Regions from separate parts of the Homo sapiens genome. Here regions 1, 2, 4 and 5 are each linked to region 3. Evidence: fine-mapped expression QTL. A gene starts in region 3. Each other region holds a variant in brackets. All regions are shown on one strand. Distances are between the middles of the regions. Region 1 overlaps LRIG1 (leucine rich repeats and immunoglobulin like domains 1). Region 2 overlaps LRIG1 (leucine rich repeats and immunoglobulin like domains 1). Region 3 holds the start of LRIG1 (leucine rich repeats and immunoglobulin like domains 1). Region 4 overlaps LRIG1 (leucine rich repeats and immunoglobulin like domains 1). Region 5 overlaps SLC25A26 (solute carrier family 25 member 26).

The links.
Region 1: its variant is fine-mapped to the expression of LRIG1 in whole blood (TOPMed, PIP above 0.99). The same link has a PIP of 0.9 or more in T cells.
Region 2: its variant is fine-mapped to the expression of LRIG1 in whole blood (TOPMed, PIP above 0.99). The same link has a PIP of 0.9 or more in lung and microglia.
Region 4: its variant is fine-mapped to the expression of LRIG1 in whole blood (TOPMed, PIP 0.97).
Region 5: its variant is fine-mapped to the expression of LRIG1 in whole blood (TOPMed, PIP above 0.99).

The regions. Positions count from the first base shown.
Region 1 is chr3:66,391,756-66,395,874 of GRCh38, forward strand. LRIG1 (leucine rich repeats and immunoglobulin like domains 1) reads right to left here. Exons shown (of 19, transcript NM_015541.3): 12 at 2,285-2,448. Among named protein-coding and RNA genes, the nearest start is that of LRIG1, 110 kb to the right of the region's middle. RefSeq lists an enhancer at 1,853-1,902. The variant G/A (reference allele first, on the strand shown) is at 2,436.
Region 2 is chr3:66,382,516-66,386,634 of GRCh38, forward strand. LRIG1 (leucine rich repeats and immunoglobulin like domains 1) reads right to left here. Exons shown (of 19, transcript NM_015541.3): 13 at 3,466-3,786; 14 at 1,476-1,757; 15 at 467-886. Among named protein-coding and RNA genes, the nearest start is that of LRIG1, 120 kb to the right of the region's middle. RefSeq lists enhancers at 180-681, 682-1,181, 3,628-3,727. The variant G/A (reference allele first, on the strand shown) is at 1,729.
Region 3 is chr3:66,499,099-66,503,217 of GRCh38, forward strand. LRIG1 (leucine rich repeats and immunoglobulin like domains 1) reads right to left here and starts at 1,924. Exons shown (of 19, transcript NM_015541.3): 1 at 1,092-1,924. The coding sequence starts at 1,309. RefSeq lists enhancers at 1,020-1,520, 1,521-2,021 and silencers at 1,124-1,333, 1,354-1,433, 1,474-1,613, 1,634-2,293.
Region 4 is chr3:66,412,589-66,416,707 of GRCh38, forward strand. LRIG1 (leucine rich repeats and immunoglobulin like domains 1) reads right to left here. Exons shown (of 19, transcript NM_015541.3): 5 at 2,332-2,475; 6 at 283-426. Among named protein-coding and RNA genes, the nearest start is that of LRIG1, 86 kb to the right of the region's middle. The variant T/C (reference allele first, on the strand shown) is at 1,725.
Region 5 is chr3:66,301,054-66,305,172 of GRCh38, forward strand. All of the region lies in intron 5 of SLC25A26 (solute carrier family 25 member 26), which reads left to right. Among named protein-coding and RNA genes, the nearest start is that of SLC25A26, 82 kb to the left of the region's middle. The variant C/T (reference allele first, on the strand shown) is at 1,520.

The sequences.
Region 1 (4,119 bases), 110 kb before region 3:
TTTTATGATATATAAATTATATTTCTTTTTAAAAGCAGCTTTATTGAGAATACTTCATCTACACTACAACTCACTCATCTAAAGTATACAATTCAATGGTTTTTAGTATACTCACCAATATGGGCAACCATCACTACAGTCAATTTTACAACATTTTCATCACTTCAAAAAGAAATGCTGTACATTTTAGCTATTACCCCTCTCTTTCCATCCCTCCCCATCCTTAAACTACTACTAACCTAATCTCTACCTCCACAGATTTCCCCATTCTGGACATTTCTATGAATGGAATCATATAATCTAATGGTCTTTTGTGGCTGACTTCTTCCACTTAGCATGACATTGTCAAAGTTCATTCATGTTGCAGGACTACTGATTGCTTTCACAGCCTAATGAATATTCCATTGTATGGCTATACCACCTTTTGTTTATCCAGTCATCCACTGATACCTGGGTTGTGCCCATATTTTGGCCATTATGAATAATGCTGCTATGAACATTCATGAAGAAGTTTCTGTGTGAACATATACATTCATTTCTCTTAGGTATACACCCAAGAGTGGAACTGCCAGGTCATGTCGTAACTGGATGTTGAACTGAGGAACTGCCGAGACTGTTTTCCAAAGTGGCTGCCCCAGTTTACACTCCCACCAGCAGTGTAGGAGGGTTCTCCCTATCCTCAGCAACACTTGTTATTATCTGAGTTTTGGATTCTAGCTGTCCTAGTGGATGTGGAGTGCTTATGTTTCCGTTTTTAAAAAAGGAGTGGGAGACTCCCATAAAGCCTGAAACCTTGATCTTCTGCCAAGTGTTTTCATGATTCCCATTAACACCTGACGTTTTTAGAGGGGGGGAAGCTTGAGCTAAAATGTGGGGGTGGGGATGACAGATGTGAAATAAACAACTCTTGCAATCCAGAATATGCCAGGGCCACAGGCTGGGGGCTAGGTGAACTTACCAAAGTCCTACCTGGCTCACCCAGAGGGAAAGCCTGCCCTATGGCAGGAAAGGGGAGGGAGCGATGGAAAGCTTTATTTGAGGGAGGTCTATAAACAATTTAAGGGTCAAGGACTTGATGACAATGGGCCAATGAACAATGGATTATACAGCCATTTTGTGCCTGGATAATGGAGCTGTGCGAGCATTAGATTCCACACAGAAGGCTCCATAAGACAGATCGGTATGAAAAGTCAGTTTGGAGAGCTGCTGCCATGTTCGCAGTGGGTTTAAGACGTGTCCCTGGTCTGGATCCAGAGGAAGTTCAGCAGGCCTGTTCTCAAAAGTGGTGATGGTGAAGGTAGGGGTGGATGCATGGAGAGGGCACACACATCTTGCCTCCAGCAGGCACACTGGCTACTCCAGCAGGCACAATGGCTATTGCTATGGCCAGAAAGTAGGAGACAGAAGTGGCCCACAAGGGTTGCCATATGGATGGGTGAGTTCCTGGTTAGGATCCTCACAGCAGGGATCTCAAGGCTCAAGGGAGACCAGTGAGCACAAAAGGCAGGAGGGACTTAACACCTGCCCAGCAGTTCCAGTCAGGCCTGGGAATCCCACTCTTGCTCCTGCTTAGAGCAAGCAAACAGGAAAAACTCAAAATTCATCTCATTTTTTGACCATGTCTTCCTGACCGTGAGCCTGTGTCAGTCCTGTCTGAGCTAGCCTGCGTGTGTGTTTTCAGCTGTTCAGCATTTTCTGTGCTCTCTGCAACCAAACTTGGATCCCGACTCCCAGTCAAAAAGATGGCAAGAGCTACGCTCCAGGAATCAGAAGGCAAAAAGAATGTAAAGCTGCAAGTGCAGATTTCAGTGGTTTGGAGAAACAGCAAGAGTACAAGTCAACATCAAGGAATTATTTTTACTACAGCAACTGTTCTCCTGAGACTTGTTCTTCCTGTATTTAACCTTTCATTCTTGGGGTCGGAAAGAAACACACATTAAAACGCCAGCCTCGTACGCGGAGTACATTCGCAGCTAAACCCGGGCACCAGAGCCCTTCTGAAACAACAGAACTATCTTCCTGTAACTGATTATTCTGATTTGTAACTGAACCAACTTATACTCCCTTCTGATTAAATGCATGTCCTCCAAGAACCACATAATGAGGCAACTCTACGGTAAATACTGTGTGTGGTTTCAGCAAGAAATAAATTGCATCCAGCAGCTGATCTGTAACCACGGGCTGGGGTTTACTCTGATCACAGGAATTACTCCCATAATGAAGAGTACCTCCTGGCTTCCTTGTCCTTCATGAAGGAGAGAAAAAGTTACAAAGACAGTCTTACCGCACACGAAACTCTCTGGTGGCACAGAGAAAATGCTCTGACCCTTCAGTGATTCTGGGTGGGCACAGGTGGCTGTCACAAAGGCCTGCAGCATCCTGCCAATTAGCCACGGGGGCAGCCACTTCAGCTGGCAGTCACACAGGAAGCTGTC[G/A]CTGCTGATATGGCTGAAAGAAACACAACAGTGGATGCTTCAGGTGCAGCCGCAAAGGAGGGACACTCCCTTCACACACACAATGATCAGTCGCCTCCAATCAGCTTCTCAAGTGAACATCAGCAAGCTGGAAGGGGGAAATGGTTTTTCTCACACTTCCTCTCCAATTTCCCAGGGCAGTGCATATAACCCACCTGGAGATTTTGAAAAAATGCAGTTGCTGATTGGGTGGGTCAGGAGTGGAACCCACGACTCTGCTAACAAGTTCACGTATCATGCTGGGGCTGCTGACCCAAGGACCGCAACTGGAGCAGCAGCAACGTGGAGCTTATCCATGCCATGTTCTGGGACAGACACTGTTCCTGTGTGACCCTGGGCTGCCTTCTGACCTCTCCTGACCTCTGATACATCCAACAGTGCTATGCTGCCACCATCCCCCCTCTGGTTTTTCCCACTTTCCTGATAAACTACTTGGAGCTTCCAAACTCGGCCTGAGACTTTGATCCAAATTCTGCAACAAGTTCCGAGGAGGGCTCTTTTGCCTCATGGCTGTTCCTTTTCCATTTGGCAAAGCTGCATGTTTTCTTACTTCCAAATGTAATAAGCCCCGTCACTGTGCCACCCTCTTGTTTGTGCCTTGATCTTTGCACCAGTATTCTTCAGGGGGCCGGCAGAATTCGGCTCTGCTCCCTAAATAGTGCTTGTTAGTTAATTGCCACTGCCCAGGGAGCATGAGAATGCACAACTTTAGCTTTGTGGGGCTCCAACCAAAACAGAGAATATTTTCTTTTTCATTTCTCAGCAACTAAGGATAAGCTTTTTAAACAGAAATCGGAATCGCCATCTCAGCGGACATTCCTTCCTGAGGAGTCACTTGAAGATAAGTCAACCAAGAGTCTAGCTGCCTTGTTCCTGGAAGACCTCAGAGCTGTGAGCTAAAGAATGATGGCTGGCCCACGATAAGGGAAGACTGGGAAAGAGAGCACACAGGCTTCCCTGCAATACACTGTCTCTGGTACATGGTGACAAACAGGAGGCACAGGTATGCGCAGAAATTCCAAAAACATCATGCAGGCCAAGAGCACGACTTTGGCTGCCTTCTCCACCCACCACTGTCCTCAGACATCAACAAAGCAACCAAATGGACTGGCCTTCCATTTTCTTCTGTTTCTCTCCAGATTTCTAATGAGCAGAGAAACTGTCACAGCAAGGAAGAATGAAGTGTAAGCAGATGACCCAAGGCTAAATTAAGTAAAATCCACTCTTCCTCATGTTCCCCATCACCCCTAGATGAGTTGGGCATCTTATTAAAATAATTATAATTTTGGAAAGTGCTTTTCCAAAAACAGAAATAACTTATCTCAAGGCCATTATAACTGGGATGCTGGCCCATATTAGATCTTAAAATCAGCATGAGAGTTTGCATTTTTATTTCACGGGCAGGTAGCGTTCTGCTGAGAGCCATCTGGAGGGCTGTCCTACTGTGGAGTCACTGCAGGTGGCGGAAGGGCTGTAACGGCCATCCCTGAGGAAATGGTCAATTCCCATGCAGTGTTTGGGGAGGGCAGCTCCCAGGAGTGCACCCTGCATGGGGGTCAGGGCTGGCTGCGCCAGGCATGGGGGGAACTCAGCCTGGATGGAGAACTCTCCGCTGTCAGAAGCACCTCCAGCTCCCCAGCAAGAG
Region 2 (4,119 bases), 120 kb before region 3:
GAGAGATGACATGGAGTCCATGTACGCAACAGGCCCTCCCAGAGCCTGCTCAGCTTTACTCTACACCCAGCGTGAAGAGCGCAGCCAGCAGATGCCAGACGCCACAAGAAGTGGAGACCAGTGATGGAAAGCCGGGGCTCACAGAAGTACCGCACTGTTTCAGGAACAACCTACTACGTGGCAGCAGGGCCTGTGCATAGGCGGCCTCTGAGTTAGCAAGGAGAGGGAAAACTGCATGGTGCGTCAGTTACTTGTATTTGTGAGTATTCCTGTTTAAGGTTAAATTTGAGAGTATTCCTGTTTAAGGTTAAGTTCCTCAAAGTTAAAATGGAATTAGTGGGACTAAACCCTCAGGAGTTCTGAACACAGTGCAATTCTTTCAAAAGCCACTGGAACCCGGCCCAGTTCCCCAGCATCACTGCCATTCCTCCCTCCTTGAAAGTCAGCTCCGCTGGCAGGGCCTGACCTGTGTTGGTGACACTGTACTCTTCACTCTTCTTCCTGGTCTGGTAGATGATGCACACCCAGACCAGTGACGTCAGGACGATGCTGCTCACGACAGCAATGGTGAAGATGCCTACCGTGGTCCCATCCTTCCTGCAGCCTGCTGCGGGCAGGACGCTCAGCTGGCTGTGAGCTCGCTCCGTGCCCAGGGTGTTGGACATCTCACAGGTATATCGGCCCGCATCCTCTGCCACCACGTTCTGAACCACCAGGAGCTGGTTGTCAGGGGTCAAGTGGTGCCGCTCAGTGAGGCTCAGCGGGCGGTCCCCCTTGAACCAGGTGATGCGGGGCGGAGGGTTCCCCGTGGCTTTGCATTGGAGGGCCACTGTTTCTCCCACAGATACCACACGGTCTTCCAAGGGGACCACCAAGGATGGGGTCTCTACAAGAGAGCAACAGAGATCTTAGTCATTCTCAGGGCCTCCGTTGCTCTGGCTCTGCCCGGTCTTCTGGACAACGGACAATCCAACATATCAATGAGATGCATCTGAGATTCTGTCTCAGAGTGGCAAGCTTTGGAGAAGACCCTTCAACTCATTGACTGAGTCATCTCCATGCTGGGAGTGGCTTCCACAGGGACAGTGAACCTCTGCTGACAAAAGCCCCTGCTATTCCCTAACTGTCCTGTGTCAGGCCTGTGTCCTTATTCTTGACCAAGCCCACATCCATCCTGTCCAATTCTTAAAATGTTCTGTAGCTCTTGACCAAGCCCACATCCATCCTGTCCAATTCTTAAAATGTTCTGTAGCTAAACCCTATGAAGACTCTTAATTCACCAGCTATCATTTCTTTTAAAGAGATAGAAACACTTGTTTAAGAAAAATTAACTCAACTCAAAAAGCAGCCCCAAATTTCAAACAGGGTCGAAAGGCCCACAACGCATACCACCCCTGGCCACACAGAGCATTTGAGAGTCTCTCTCTCTCGCTCACACACACACACACACACACACAGTAGAGCAATAGGCAAACCTAGGACAGTCAGGGTGGCATTAGCTGAAATAGAACCGGCTGAGTTCTGAGCAGTACAGCTGTAAACCCCTGCGTCATCTATTTTCACATCAGTGATGAAAAACACGTCGTCATCCGGCATGACATGCATGCGTCGCTCACGGGCAGCGGGGAAATCCGTGCCTCCATCCTTCTGCCAGGCAATCTGAGGGTTTGGGTGACCTGTGGCAGCACATTCGAGGCGGGCCATGGTGGTGGTCCGGATGGTTATGTC[G/A]TGGGGCGTTTTGGTGAATGATGGCAACACTGGAAAACATACGTATACAGGGTCGGGTTACGGGACAGCTAGATGCAAAACCAGGAAGTCCTCTGGCAAACACCTACCTGTCACTGTGCCCAGTGCCAGTTCACTTCTTTTCTCCCAATGTCTGCCCAGGACCACTCCTGCCACCTGTGAATCAGGAACCCCCAGCTTCTCCCACCACAGTTGGAACACTTCCATCCCATCAGCCTTGCATTGTACACCCTAGGCTGGCTATAGTCCCTTCAAAGCAAAGGCTTTTACTCTACATGGCAGTGCCTATACGGGAGTTGCAGGGGGTGCCCATCCACACTAGGTAGGCCTGATGCTTGCCTGCTTTACCCACCAAGAGAGAGGCTGTGGAGATGGAATTACAGAGGGAAGGTGGGCATGCCTCCACCTTGGGAGAGCAATGGGATGGCTCATCCGTTTGGATGGGTGTTCATGGGATGAATGGGATGGCTCATCCATTTGGATGGTTGTTCACCCAGGCTGTTCCTGCCCACTGCCGTATACCCAGGCAGGAAGCATTCAGCTTGCTAGCTTGCTCAGCCTAAAGATCGATGTCCTGACAGAGTGGGACGCATCCAGCCACGTGTCAGGCACCACCAGAGTTCCTGTCAACGTCAATTTTGGGGAGAGTCTAACAAACAGCTGAGTCTTTCGGAAGCTGTGAGGACTTGGAATAAGCCAAGACAACCCCACTACAGTGTGGTAAAGAAGGTGTTTCGCTGTGATCTGTGGGGGCTTAAAGAGCAAAGCAGATCCACCATTCTGATGATTCTCAAGCCAATTCTTTTTAACTAGAGAGTTAGTAATCAGGATAACCCCATTAGGTTACTGGGGTGGGACAGTAAACTCTTCAAGCTATCTACTCCCCACCCCCCTCCTCCAAACACACAATAACACATGGTCCCCTTGACAAGCTCCAAGGCTGGTTAATGAGTAAAAACCTGTCAACTGCCAGGACACTGTGTCTTTCAGGCCAGGGCTCACACCAGCCTTGCACTCCACAGTCTCTGGAGCAGTAGCTAGCCTCTGACTCCAATGCTGTGCCATCTACTCAAAGAACAGCAGCTTCCCCAGGCTAAGGGGTATTTGGAATTTGGAAGCCAGATCTCTTGGCTTATAGAGGATAAGAACTGGACAAAACAAGGCTTAGCTCTCCACAATTTGACTTAATAACTAGTTTTTGTTTTGTTTTTGAGACAGTCTCACTTTGACACCCAGGCTGGAATGCAGTGGAGTGATCTCGGCTCACTGCAACGTCCACCTCCTGGGTTCAAGCAATTCTTGTGCCTCAGCCTCCCAAGTAGCTGGGATTACAGGCATGTGCCACCACACCTGGCTAATTTTTGTATTTTTAGTAGAGACGGGGTTTCACTATGTTGGCCACACTAGTCTCGAACTCCTGGCTTCAAGTGATCTGCCCACCTCAGTCTCCCAACTGCTGGGATTACAGGCATGAGCCACAGCACCCGGCCAATAACTAGATTTTTAAAACTCACCAAAAACAAGTAACTCATTGTGAATAACCCTTGAAATCTGCAAAACTTGCTCTGGGGCAAACCCAGGCAACAATAGGATTTAACAGTGCCCCACAGAAGCATGTGTGTGTCCTGTCTCAGTCATCTCTACATGGAAAGCTGAAAGGGCAATCAGGAGTGTGCTTTGTAGGATTCTGGTACTATAACAAAGATGGTGTTTCCATACCATTCACGGTGAGCCTGGCCTTATGTGAATAGGTGGAGCCAAAGTGGTTGGTGATGACACATTGGTAGCGGCCCTCGTGCCCGAAAGTGACCTGACGGAGGTGCAGGATGGTGGTGTACTCCATCACTTCCCCGTCCTGCGCGTGGACGTGGACAAAGTTCTCCATGTCTGCATTGGTCAGGACTTCATTGTCTTTCTTCCAGGCAAAGGTCATGGGGGAGCTGCTGCTGCTGGCTGCTGAGCATGTAAACCGGATGTCCTTGCCCACCATAGCCATGGTGGTTTCTGGCTGGGTGATGATCTGTGGCTTCAGGAAGTCATCTGGGGAGAGAAGGGTCAACTGTAAAGCGCTGGGTTCTTGGTACACAGAGGAACCAGCTGCTGTTCATGCTAACAGAAACTGACACAGACACCAAGCAGGAACCAGAGCTTGAGGTCCCTGTGCATCCTCAGCCCCACCAACCAGATGCCGTAAGAGTTGCACCATGGACATCTGACCTCATCTAATTAGAAGTCTGTGAGTACTGATCACCTTTATGATCACACTCCTTGATTAGAAATTAACCCACCACTTCTCAGTTCTCAAACCAGCCAGCCGGCAGTTTCCTTAAGACAACTGGCTCTGCCTGCTGACTTTCACACAAAACAGTCAGG
Region 3 (4,119 bases):
CTAATGGTTCTACAGAGATGCTAATTACCCATAACTGAACGGGATTTGACTCATGCACCAGATTTGTTAGAAGTAAAAGAAGACTATTCTATTCTACCATGTTTACACAGAAGTCTAATGCCTTTTTTTTCCTGTCAAATCTCCTGTAAGAAGTGTCCCACTAAGTCCTAATAAGCCCACATCCTGACAGCACAGAAAAGAACCTCTTTCGGGTGAAACAAACAGCTTAAATCAGCCAAGCCCCTGGCACCCTCTCCTGAAGCAGCACTTCTCCAAAACTCATTTGCACCATTTATGGAGGAGAGAGTCTTGAGGGTGGGCCCCACCCCACTGGATCATCAAGCCCAATGGGGCCCCAGGGAACACACAGGAAGGGTCTGGAACACAGTTCCGTAAAATGCCAAACAGGCGTAAAAGGACAAACTCCCAGCACTCACAGGTCGCCAGGAACTGTCAAAGCCCTCTAACTCAGGGGTCCTCGGGGGAAGACTGCCTTCTGCCCCGCACAGAGAGGCAAGTCAGGCCACCACGGTCTTCGGGGATCAGGAGACGGCTACACACACTATCAACTAATAAATAATGTAAACGAAAGACTGGACCCAACAGTCACCTTCATTCATTACCCACTGGAAGACCAAGGAGCTCAGACACCAAATAGTTGGATTACAGGAGAGGAAAAGGAAACGCACCCACATACCCCCACAGACTTCTTCACACTCTTCTCCAGACGTTTCCCACCCACCCACCCGCAAACACACTCAGCTCCAGACTCCCACTCACTCACCCCCAGATGGCCCGCACGACGCGTGCTGGCTAACCCCCAAATCTCTACGACCCACGCTCGCTCGTCTCCAGACCCCACGAGGCACGCTCTTCTTCTCCAGGCTCTCTCGCACGCCTACTCCCCCGGACCTCCACGCAGAATCTCCCTTCCGCCACTCCAACCTGACAGTCTTCCAACACGCACAAGCACGCACAACTCCACACACACAACCCAGTCCGCACCCCCTCCCTGAGTACGAACCCCCGCCGCTCCATCCCCAAGTGACAGAGCCCCGGGGCGCAGAGAGGGCGGAAAGGGCGGCACTCACAGGCTCCGCGTCCAGGAGGGCAGGTCCCCGGGCAACGCAGCCAGCCCGCGCCCACCGCAGTCCAGCGAGTCCCCAGCGCAAGTGCAGGCGGCCGCGCAGGGCGCCCGCGGGCCGGCCGCGGCGGTCACCGGCTCCAGCCGAAGCAAAAGCAGCCAGAGAAGGAGAAGGCAAGGCGAGCGGCGCGGGGCCCCGAGCCCTCCCCGGACCGGCCGCGCCATCTTGTCTGGAGCGCGCTGCGAACTCCGGGCGCGGGGACTGTGAGGACCCGAACGGCCGCAGACGCGGGCGGGCCCGCGGGGCGCTCCGCTCGGCTCTAGACTCCGCACCGGGGCATGGCCCCCGCCCCAAGTTCTCTCTGCGGCCGCGGCTCCGGCACTCAGCGTGCCCCCGGTGCCCGGGCCGCTCCGGAGCACCCGGCGGGGGCCGCAAACCCCGCGCCCATCCGGGCCGGCCGGCCCGCCCGCGCTAGCTGCGAACTCCGCCGATTCGGGCAAGGTGTACCCAGCCTGCGCTCTTCGTCCGCCCGGGGCACGCCGAGTGCCGCTACCGACACCGGCCGAGGGCAGTGCTGCCGCTGCGCCTGGAAGACAGGCGTTCAGCCCCGCAGCCCGAGCTCGGTGCCGGCAGGCATCTTCCTCTGGGCTCGGAGCGCAAAGCCGTAGACCTCGGGCTGGACGGCGCGGCCGGCCCCGCGCTGGGAGGCCCCAGTGCGCCTCGCTGTCCCCACGCCGCGGCCAGAGAGCGCGCGCGCGCGCGCAGCCTCGGGTTCCGCACGGCTCCTCCGCGCAGCAAGAGTCCCGCCGACCTCGCAGCCGAACAATCAGCCGCTTGCTGTTCGCCTCCCCGCGGCCCAGCCCCGGCCGGTCCCCCAAGCCCCGCCCCCGGCCGCTCGCCCGCACACACCCCCTAGGCTCCGCGCTCCGCGGCCGCCTGCTGGCCCACGTTGGATGCTTTGCAACAGCGCCCCGCCACGCCTCCCCGCCTGCTGCTCATTGGCTGCCGGAGTCCACCGTGGCCAGCCTCGAGGGCCATTGGAGCGCTCGCTGTGATCCCGCCCCTCCCGCTTCACCGGCTACCCCGCCCCCACACTCTTTTCCCACCCAAGGTGTGAAGGGCGGGAGACTGGGAGGAGAAAGGGAGGGACGGCCCCCGCCTCTTAAAGGAGACACGCAGGTTGTTGTTGGAGAACGGGAACGCGGGCTGGGGAAAGGAGGCGTGAAGATACGCCCTCTGCGTCAAGAAGGGGAGAGAAAGTTAAGAGGGTAAAACGCCCCCGTTTTGGGGCTGTCTGGCCCCAAGGCTTTTTACGTCCTCCTCAGGCTGCAAGCAGGACTGCAGATTAGAAGCAAACCCGCGTCCGTTTTCCAGGTTCCTTCCAAAAGCGAAGACACAGGTTTAAAACTTAACACATTTCTTCCTGACTGGGACATCCTTGGTTATTTCATTAGGCGTGGTCCCCTTCCTCCTCGAGCAGCCTGGAGCATCTGCTCCTGACTTGTTCTTCACGTCCTAAATCCAGCAATATGTCCTTGATTACTAAAATGAATGTGTGCTGCAGAAACCTAGTCTCAAAGGTGCACCCTCGGCCAGGAGTGGTGGCTCACGCCTGTAATCCCAGCAGTTTGGCAGGCCAAGGCGGGCGGATCACCTGAGGTCAGGAATTCGAGACCAGCCTGGCCAACATGGTAAAACCCCGTCTGTACTAAAAATGAAAAATAAAAAAATTAGCCAGGTGTGGTGGTGCACACCTGTAATACCAGCTACGGGAGGCTGGGACAGGAGAGCTGCTTGAACCCCGGAGGCGGAGGCTGCAATGAGCAGAGACTTGTCACTGAATTGTCACTGAATTCCAGCCTGGGTGACAGAGCGAAACTCCGTCTCAAAAAAAAAAAAAAGTGCACTCTCCTTCCCAGCTAGTGAGTTGAAGGGTACTTCTAGAAATGCTGCAGCCTTTGATAAAGGGGTTGCTTTGTTGTTGTCATTGGGTTTTTGTTTTAATCAGAGTCTTTTTAAGATAATTTTCAAGAAGCCATTGTGTATTCGTAAGAGACAGAGTTAAAGGAGAAATAATAGTTAACAAAGCTTCTAACTTTTGCTCTTAAAGATCAGACCATAGTAGTAGTGTGTTACGATAGTACGTGGTAACATTAAGCAGACATACACACATTGAGAAAAAAAGAAAAAGATTACCACTGTAACATATAGCTGCCCTCTGGGCGTTTTGGTTTGCTAGTGTCTCATATCCCTTCCCAAGAGTATGCAAATTACTAACATAACTGCGCACATTGTCAGGAAGATTAAGCAGGTCAAGTCTGTTGAAAAACATTTGCTCCAGAACATTAAATCTGAGTTGTGTTTTATGGAAGTGGGGTGGGGTGGGAGGTAAAGAGGAGAAGTTGAACCTTAGGGAAAAAAGGCAAAAAAAAAAAAAAAATTAAAGGGTTTATTCCATTTTCGACACAATCTAAGAGGTTTGCTTTAATTGAGATGCACTAAATGTGTTAAACTTTCCCTCAGCCATAAGATCACCTCTTTTCTTTAGCCAAAATGTGATCTTCCTATCCCTTCCTCCCCTTTTTCCTTCTTCCCCTTCTGAATTCATTGCGCCTCATTTTTTTCTTGTTTAATTTTGCATGATCTCAGCAGTGATGCCCAAAGCAGTGCTCAAATATGTGGGTAAATCAATTCAAATCTAATTCCCAAGAAATATTATCAGAAAAATGCTGCACCTGACCCATCCCACCCAGAGCTTTAACCAGCTTTTATGTTTCATATGTAATCCAAATAAACATACACCTTCCATCTGGACGAGAAGAAATATGTCCTTTTGTTCTATCCCTTTTGGTAAATATAATAATAATAAGCAGTGGGAATGGAATTAAAAAGACCCTAAATTTATGAAGTCCTCTCAGTCAGTGTTTAAGTTTTACACAAAGAACACAAAACAGTAATTTGATGCAGAATACCCACAGCCGTTTCCTGAAATGAAACTGTCAGATCCTCCCTGTCCCCACCCCACAATAAAACA
Region 4 (4,119 bases), 87 kb before region 3:
GGGTCCGGCTGAAGTCTTGAAGAATCCTTCAGGAGAGAGGGGCTGGGCACTGGTGCCCCACTCCATGCCCAGTGCACAGCTGAATGCTGGTGTGGGCGCGCACGTGCACACGCGCACGCACACACACCCCACACCACACAGCAATGCTGGTGTGGGCGCACACACCCAACACACAGCAACGTTGGTGTTGGTGCGCACATGCATGCGCACACACACACACGCCACATCACACCACACCGCACAGCAATCCTTAGCAATGCCAGTAACCTGGTCCGCACTTACAGCACATGCATCTTGGACAGTCCCCAGAAGGCCCCATCTGTCAGTTTGCTGATGTTGTTTCGCTGAAGCTTCAGCACCTCCAAGCTGTTGAGCCCCTGGAAGGTGAGGCCCTCTATCAGCCGAATCCTGTTCCGATTGAGGTCCCTAAAGAGATGAAGCCAGCAGGGTCAGAGTGTCTTATGTGCATATCCCACCCACAACCATTCTGAAGCAGTCCTGGCTAAGTTTCCAAGCCAGAGGAGAAATCCCAGTGCAGGGATCCCTGGGAAGCCAGGATGTGTAGGGGAGCCCACCATGTGTCTCGGCTGCCATGCAGGCACTGATGCTGCCACCTGACCACACCTAGTGCAGGCAAGAGGGGTGAGTGAGGCCAGCTCTCCACAGCCAGCTCCGAGGCTGGCCCACAGCTGCACAGAAGAGAACGCGTGTGTGCTCACGTCTCCTCCCCCAGTAGCACCAGTGCCATTTGTGACTCTGCAGTGAGGACGTGGGTATGACTCAAGGGGTGAATGTCTTATGTGAGGTATCTCTGAGCTCAGCAACAGAAATCCACACCACATGCCTCAACCCAGGAAAAACCAAACCACTATGTATCAAATGGCAATAACACTTTCCACTGGGGGCATTTCACAGCATCTCCACTATGGAGAGAAGTTACTGCACATGGGGGCAGGGGGAGATGGGGTAGAGACACCCCACAAGTCATATACACTTGGCTTCTAGCCCCAGTATGACAAAGCCTCAGTTCACCAAAAGATGTCAGGAATCTGGGTGGGCCAGATCCATTAGCACCCCTGCGGGAAGGGGAGGCAGAGCAGCCAGAAAGCCCTTGGTTTTCCCCAAATATTTCTGCAGTGTCTCATGATGCTGCCCCACACAAACCTTCTCAGGAATCACTGAGACCTTCTCCACAGACTGAAAATGGCAAAGTCTAGGACTCCCCACCCAGGGGAGGTGAAACCCAGGTAGGATGAGAGCCAGGCACACCCCGTCGTGCCGCCAACCTGGCCCTCGACAATTATTTTGTTTTGTTGAAACAAAATTTCCAATACTGTCTTATTTTCCTGAAATACATTCTTCTGCTAAAAAGAGGGCACAGGAAAAAAAAAAATCAGGGAAAAAAAGTCCTTCGTCAGGCTCTGGTTAACAGAGCTTTACTTGAATCTAAAACTCTGCCTTCTAGAAGGGTACTCAGCCTTCCATCAGTAAACTAAACAATTAAATTGTTTACAAAAATAATAAATCGGCCGGGTGCGGTGGCTCATGCCTGTAATCCCAGCACTTTGGGAGGCCAAGGCAGGCGGATCACGAGGTCAGGAGATCGAGACCATCCTGGGTAACAAGGTGAAACCCCATCTCTACTAAAAATACAAAAAATTAGCCAGGCATGGTGGTGGGTGCCTGTAGTCCCAGCTGCTCTGGAGGCTGAGGCAGGAGAATGG[T/C]GTGAACCCCGGGGGCGGAGCTTGCAGTGAGCTGAGATCACACCACTGCACCCCACCTGGGGGACAGAGCGAGACTGTCGCAAAAAAAAATAATAATAAATAAATAAATAATAATAATAATAAATCAACTACCTTGTAAGATTAAAGATATGAAGACAAAGGCTTGTCTTTTGCTTACTAACTCCAGCTACACTAACTTCCTCTCAAACTGTTCAAGAAGTGTCGGACACCACCATGTCCAAGGTACAGATTTTACGGGTATCTTAAAAAAATACAGAAAAACATCTAAGATAAATAAGAACCCAAACCCATGCAGCCTCAGCATTAGCCAGCATCAGCTAAGCAGCAGGACTCCTGATTCCATTTTGGAAAACATCAGGGAAGAAAAGCGACCTCAGTGGATGTCTTTCTCAGCAACCTGAAGCAGCCACAGCACCAGACCCAGCTCCGAATTTGCTTTTATGAGGTGCTGCCATTAATGGTAATTTATGGAGAGCTTTACCAAATGGAGCAAGGAAAGGGTGGCGTTTGGTACGAGGTCCTTGGGGAAATCTGGCCTCCATAAAGTTTGGCTAGCCTTAATTAAAGTGTAGGTTTCTGTACTCACAGTTGTGTCAGCCTGGGTAGCTTGAATGCTCTTACAGGAAGCTGGGTGATCCTGTTTTTGCTCAGGCGAAGAGTTAGCAGCGACCGTGACAGACCATCAAATGCTCCCAACTCCAGGGTGCCAATCCGATTGCCTGCCAGGTTGCTGGAATGATTCAGAAAAGAAAATGTGGTGGTTGGTCAAAGGCCTTCCTCATTTCATTATAGACACCAGACCTCTCTGGGTCTGAGTTGGGAAGATGAGTTAAGACACCAGAGGGACAGGTTTCCAGTGAGATGTTTATCAGCCACAGGCTTTGGATGGGGAGCTAGAGAGATGCAGGTGTTAGGACTGTGCACCTAAGCCCTGAGGGCAAGGCCGATTTAGTCGAAAGCATACTGTCCTTGAAGCTGCTGGGCCACCCCAAGAGGGTGGGAGTGAAAGTCAAACACCCCCATGCCCACTGACACACCAGCCCTGCGTCAGGAGCCACCTGCAGGACTCTTCTCACCACCCAGTGCCCAAGGTTGACGTGAAAACTCCTAGAAAGCAGAAAATCAACTGAAAGGCAAGGTCAGTGTTAATTTAATAATTTAGAGAAATAGCCTTTAGTTTTGAGGTGGGTCTTGCTATATGAACTACATAACACATATGTATAAACCAATTCATTTCTGTAATTGTAAATGCCTCAAAGAAACACTCTAGCTGAAGAGACCTGTGCAGAATCCCTTCGTAAAACAAGCAATATGTCATGGTACCTACACTTACAGCGTGATTAAGTCGGGGCATCTCCCGTGACAATACAAAAAGGCAGACACCGCTTCTCAAAAGGCACAGAAGTCTGCAGCTCAGATCTGTGCATCTTGCTGTATGCAAATTATATCAAGTAATAAAAAAGAAAAGAAAGTACAAGGAAGAACAATATGGCATTCCTGTGAGAAGTGGTTTCCAACACCTCTCCTCTGCCTTCCCCAAACAAATGCTGCTTTTTCTGGCCTAAGTGAAAAGGAGAAAGACCAGAGAGGATTTTCTGCCACAGAGGGTGGAAGGGAGCAAGGCACTTTTTGTCTCTCCAGCAGATAGTGGCCTAGGACAAGGCACATAAGGATTCTTTGCAAATGGGGCTGGACTGTTTGTTCTCAACACCTCAGATTAAAGAACAGCCTGTGTGATGAAGATATATCACCCAATAGCTGCCAAAATAGAAAGTCCCTCCCACTTTTGTGCAGGGAGAGGTCAGAGCAACTTAGTGTAGCAGTTATGGTTTCTCTGTCCCAAGCAAAGTGGTGTCACGTGGACACCTTTTGAGGGCCCACACTGGAGGCTTCACAAAAGCCAAGGCCTCCTGTTCCCAACTCTGGCGCCCTAATGCAGGCTAAGAAAGAAATCACTCTTCTTCTTGCAGTATTTACTTGGAAAATCCATGTGCCAAACCTCACCCTCCCTGAAAAGATGGGTCACAATGACCCCTAAACCAGCCTTGCGAATGCGTTCCAAAGTTAACTCTGGAACAGTAATGACACACGGAATGAAAACTCACCTGGAATTGGAAAACGTCTCTTTAGCCTGGGGTTGCAGTTTCTTTCCCAGAGTAACACTTTTCCTACCAACAAGTAGTTGATTAAGTAGGTTTTAACTTTTTTTCCTTCCTGTCTACCATCCATTGTGTGTGAGATGGGACATTAATATGGGTAAGAGAAACAGACAAATCTAAAAGGTGCTGAAAACCCACATAATAGAGTAACTGCCCTCCCCCAAACAAACCCAATGACTTGTTTTACAGTGCATGACACTAGAAAGATAAGCACT
Region 5 (4,119 bases), 200 kb before region 3:
AAATGATGATAGAACTCATTGTGTCCTCAAATAATTGGATTCTGAAATGGAAGATAGGGTTCATGAAGAATAAAAAATAGTAGATCTCATGTAAAGGTGAAAATTTACTTTTCTTTTTAGTATTCAACTCAAAATTGCCAGTTTCCCTGAATTTATTATAGCAATTTCTCTTGTTTTAAAATGAAGTGAAATGTGAAGTTAATTTACATACTAGCTGCTTTGAAGTGTAATTTTGCTTGCCAAGTTGTTACAGATTTTTATACAGACTTTTTAAGGAATTTAGTAATAATGCTGCCACAGTGTGTAGGACAAGTTCATGCCTTGCATCTTTGATGGGCGTTAGAATTGTTTGCCACAGTTCCCACTCTGGTTGGAGGGCACAACCAATTCGTCTATGCCTTTTGACTTCCATGCCGGAGAGTGTGACTTCTGCATCTGTTTGTTAGTATTTTTATGTAAGCAGAAGCCAAGAATGTCATTAGAAAGTAAAACTTTAACAAGAGGGACTGAATCCTACTAGGCCAACATAATTTATAGAGAGCAGGGGCTAACATTTTCATTTGGGAAAAATGCTTCCATTTCTATACGTGTTTAGACGGAGTACCTTAAGCATTGTTTTAGTCTTTTCCTATCTACATGTTACCATTCAGAACTTAGGTGGATGAAACACATTTTATATGTAGTTACAGAGAGATACAGAATTAAAAGCCTACAGATACAAGCATTAGAATTGTGACGGGGGTAATTAGAAACATGGAGTCTGAAGGTAGCCTATCTGGATTCAAATCCCAGCTCCAGTACTTAGCCATGTGGCCTTAGGCAAGTTATTTAAACTGACTTATTTTGTTCCTCTGTAAGATGAGAGTAACAATAATACCAACCTCATAAGGTTGTTGGGAAAATTACATGTGTTCCTGCATATGAAGTGCTTAGGACAGTGCCTGAAATACAGTCCTATATAAATGTTATAATTTATGATTATTGTTGTGATGATAATGATGATAATATCACTAGCAGCTCCTCTGAAACTTGTTGGCCTCATCCAAGGCCTATCACTTAGCTTTATCCCCAGTGTCTCTAATACTCCATCTGTTGTGCAGAAGTATATCCTGAACCTTCCTCCCTCTGAATTTGCCCACTTGGCACCTCTTCATTTGCTCTTACAATCTCTAGACCATAAATTTCAAAGACGTGGCCCAAAATGTTGGACTCAAGGTTTTTGCAAACTACAAGCTAACATGTTAAAATTGAGTGGTTTCATATACAACTCCAGTTATCCAAGTTTTCTTGGACAATCTGGGTATCTGGTCATAGTGGGCCTACATTTCTGCATGGCAGTAATTGTCTAGAACAGAGTAGCGGCTGCTTGTTTTGACAGAAACTGCTCTCCATGTCATCAGAGTCCCTGCCACTTCCTGTTGTTTTGACACTTTTCTCATTCTAGTCATCGATATCATTTTTTTGGGTCATGTAATACTTATTTGCTGCCAGCAGTTTAGAGTAAGCAGCGGTTCTCCAC[C/T]ATGTGTTCTGCACACTCATACTCCACTAGGCCTTTGCTGATAGGTCACCAGATTTTGATTCATGTGTAAAACATACATTAGTTAAAATCAAGTATGCATAATAGTGTTTTGGCTTTGTCTGTCAGAAGCAACATTGAGCTGGGCAGGTGTGCTTGTGTATTAGAGCTAGATACAACTTGGTGAAAAGGTTAGCCCATATTTAAGTTCAAACCAAAGAACAGTGATTAAAGCCCAAGCCAAAGAAAATTGAGATATGGGAGAGCTTTGCCTTCTGAGTGTGTAAGGGAGCACAGGTGGTGCACGCCATGTGTTCAGTGTCTCAGTGCTAGGGAGTCAGCAGGGATAAAGAAAGATAACTGATGCCTTAGAGCAGAGTTTAAGGGGCTGTGGATTGTGTCCATGGGGACCCCCCTTTGCATTCCAGGCTGTGTAGCAGCATCCCTGGCCTCTACCCACTAGATACCAGGAGCACCTCCCGTGAGTAGTGACAATTTAAATGTCCCCTGGGAGGTTGAAAGATGCAGAAGACATTATAATATAGTAGTTATCATGGTCTAGTCACTGTTGACATCTTTAATACTGCTTTTAGTCTTTGAATCCTTTGAAATATTGGCTTTGTACTCCACTTTTCTAAAGCATTCAGTATTTATTTTATGGCCATTTTACTACAGTATCAGAGAGGAGATATACTTCTCTCCCCCTCTCTAGTCAAGCACAACTGCAAGTATCTTTAAGGCGCAGCCACCTTTAAGGAAAGACTTCTGGGAACAGCTAACTGTGTTGGAGGAACTGGGCTGTGGCTCGTCCTCTGCTGCTCGTTAGCCCTGTGAACCTGGGGAGGCTAGCTCCCTCTCTTAGTCTTGGCTAAAAGTGAGGTGGCTGGATCAGATAATCAGCAAGATGCCTTCCAGGTAAGATTAGGCTGTAAGTCAGAAAATATTGTAGGACTTCTGAAACTTTAACTGCCAGTCAAGATCACTTAACTAGAATGTCCCACATTTTTCACTCCATTGAAATGAGTAACTTCAAGTGTCATGTAACATCAGGATCACTTAGGGGAATGTCTAGAGGTGCAGTAGATGATTGTTAGCTTTCTGTTGCTGTGTAATGAATTACCACAACTTTAGTGGTTTAAGGTGACATATATTGATGATCTCATGGGTCTCTACAGCAGCAGTCTGAGGACCGCGTGGCTGAGTTCTCCATTCACTGTTTCACACAGTGACAGTCAAGGTGTTGCAGGGACTGTGATCTCATCTGAGGCTAGGGTCCTCTTCCAAATGCACAGGGCGGTTGGCAGATGGCATTTCCTTGTGGCAGTATGACTGAGGATCCTGTTTCTTGTTAGCGATTGGATGGTGACCACACTTTACTTCCAGAGGCTGCTCTGAGGTCCTTGCCATGTGGCCCCCTCCATAGGCCCTTTTACAACATGAAATTTTATTTCTTCAGAGCCAGCAGGAGAATCTCTCACACTTCAGATCTTGTTAGGAAGGGGCTGGTTTTTCTAAGAACTCACCTTTGAAGTCAAGCCCATCCACGATAATTTCCCTCTTGATAAACTCAGAACCAACTGATGGGGGAACTTAATTAAATCTGCAGAATCCATTCATATTTCTGATTAAATGTAACTTCGTCACAGGACTTGTCTTTGTCCTGTTCACGGTCCCATCCACACTGGATGGGGGAGGATTATACAGGGCGGGTACATCAGGGAGTGGGAATCTTGGGGGCCTCCCACAATGCCTCTTGATTTAAAAAGATTCTGGAGCATACTTTTTCTTATGTCTCATATCTAAGCTAATATCTTCCCTTTTCTGTTCAGTTTCAGTTTTGTGTTCACATGTCTGTTGTCATATTTTTTCTTCTATTTTTGCAGGAGGAGGATTAGAGTCAAAGGTGTGGGGAGGCTTGTGAGCTTCTGTGAGTTGTTGTGTGTGGCTTGTATACATGCTGTTATACTGGTAAGCTCTGTAACAACCCCTGATTGCTGAACATGCTAACTGGGATATACGCTACATGGTTCACTGGTGCTTTCAGGAAACCATCGAGGTGTCAGGCATTGAGGATTCGTTGTTCACTAATACATTCTTTAAAATGCTTTTAGAATCATTATATCCAGTTTCCTTTCTCTCTGTACATGGGACTGATTAACCACCATGTGGGTGGAAATCTAATTTGTTGCTGGCTCAGAACTTTGCAATTTTCAATACTTTGCAGAATTATCCTGTTTACCAAATGAATTGTGATAAAAATTGATACATTAGTATTAAGAGGATGACTTATAACATGTACTATGATTTATAGGGCCAAAAAGACCTGATAAACTCACAACCATTTTACCCCATAATGTTAAGAAACTCAAAAGATTTTGTCACCAAAAAGTGTATCTTGTGATTTATTTTTTATGACACGGTAGTATCACTTGTTAGAGTTCTGAGATTCTTTATTAGCAACTGACAGTTTTCTAGGAACTGAATTTTTACACTTAGAGCTGCGAAAAGCCAAAAGCATTTCTAAATGATCTCCATCCCATTCCCCTCAAATAATAATGTACACGCTCATTATAGTTTGTTAGTTTCTCATGCCTTTCTTTGGT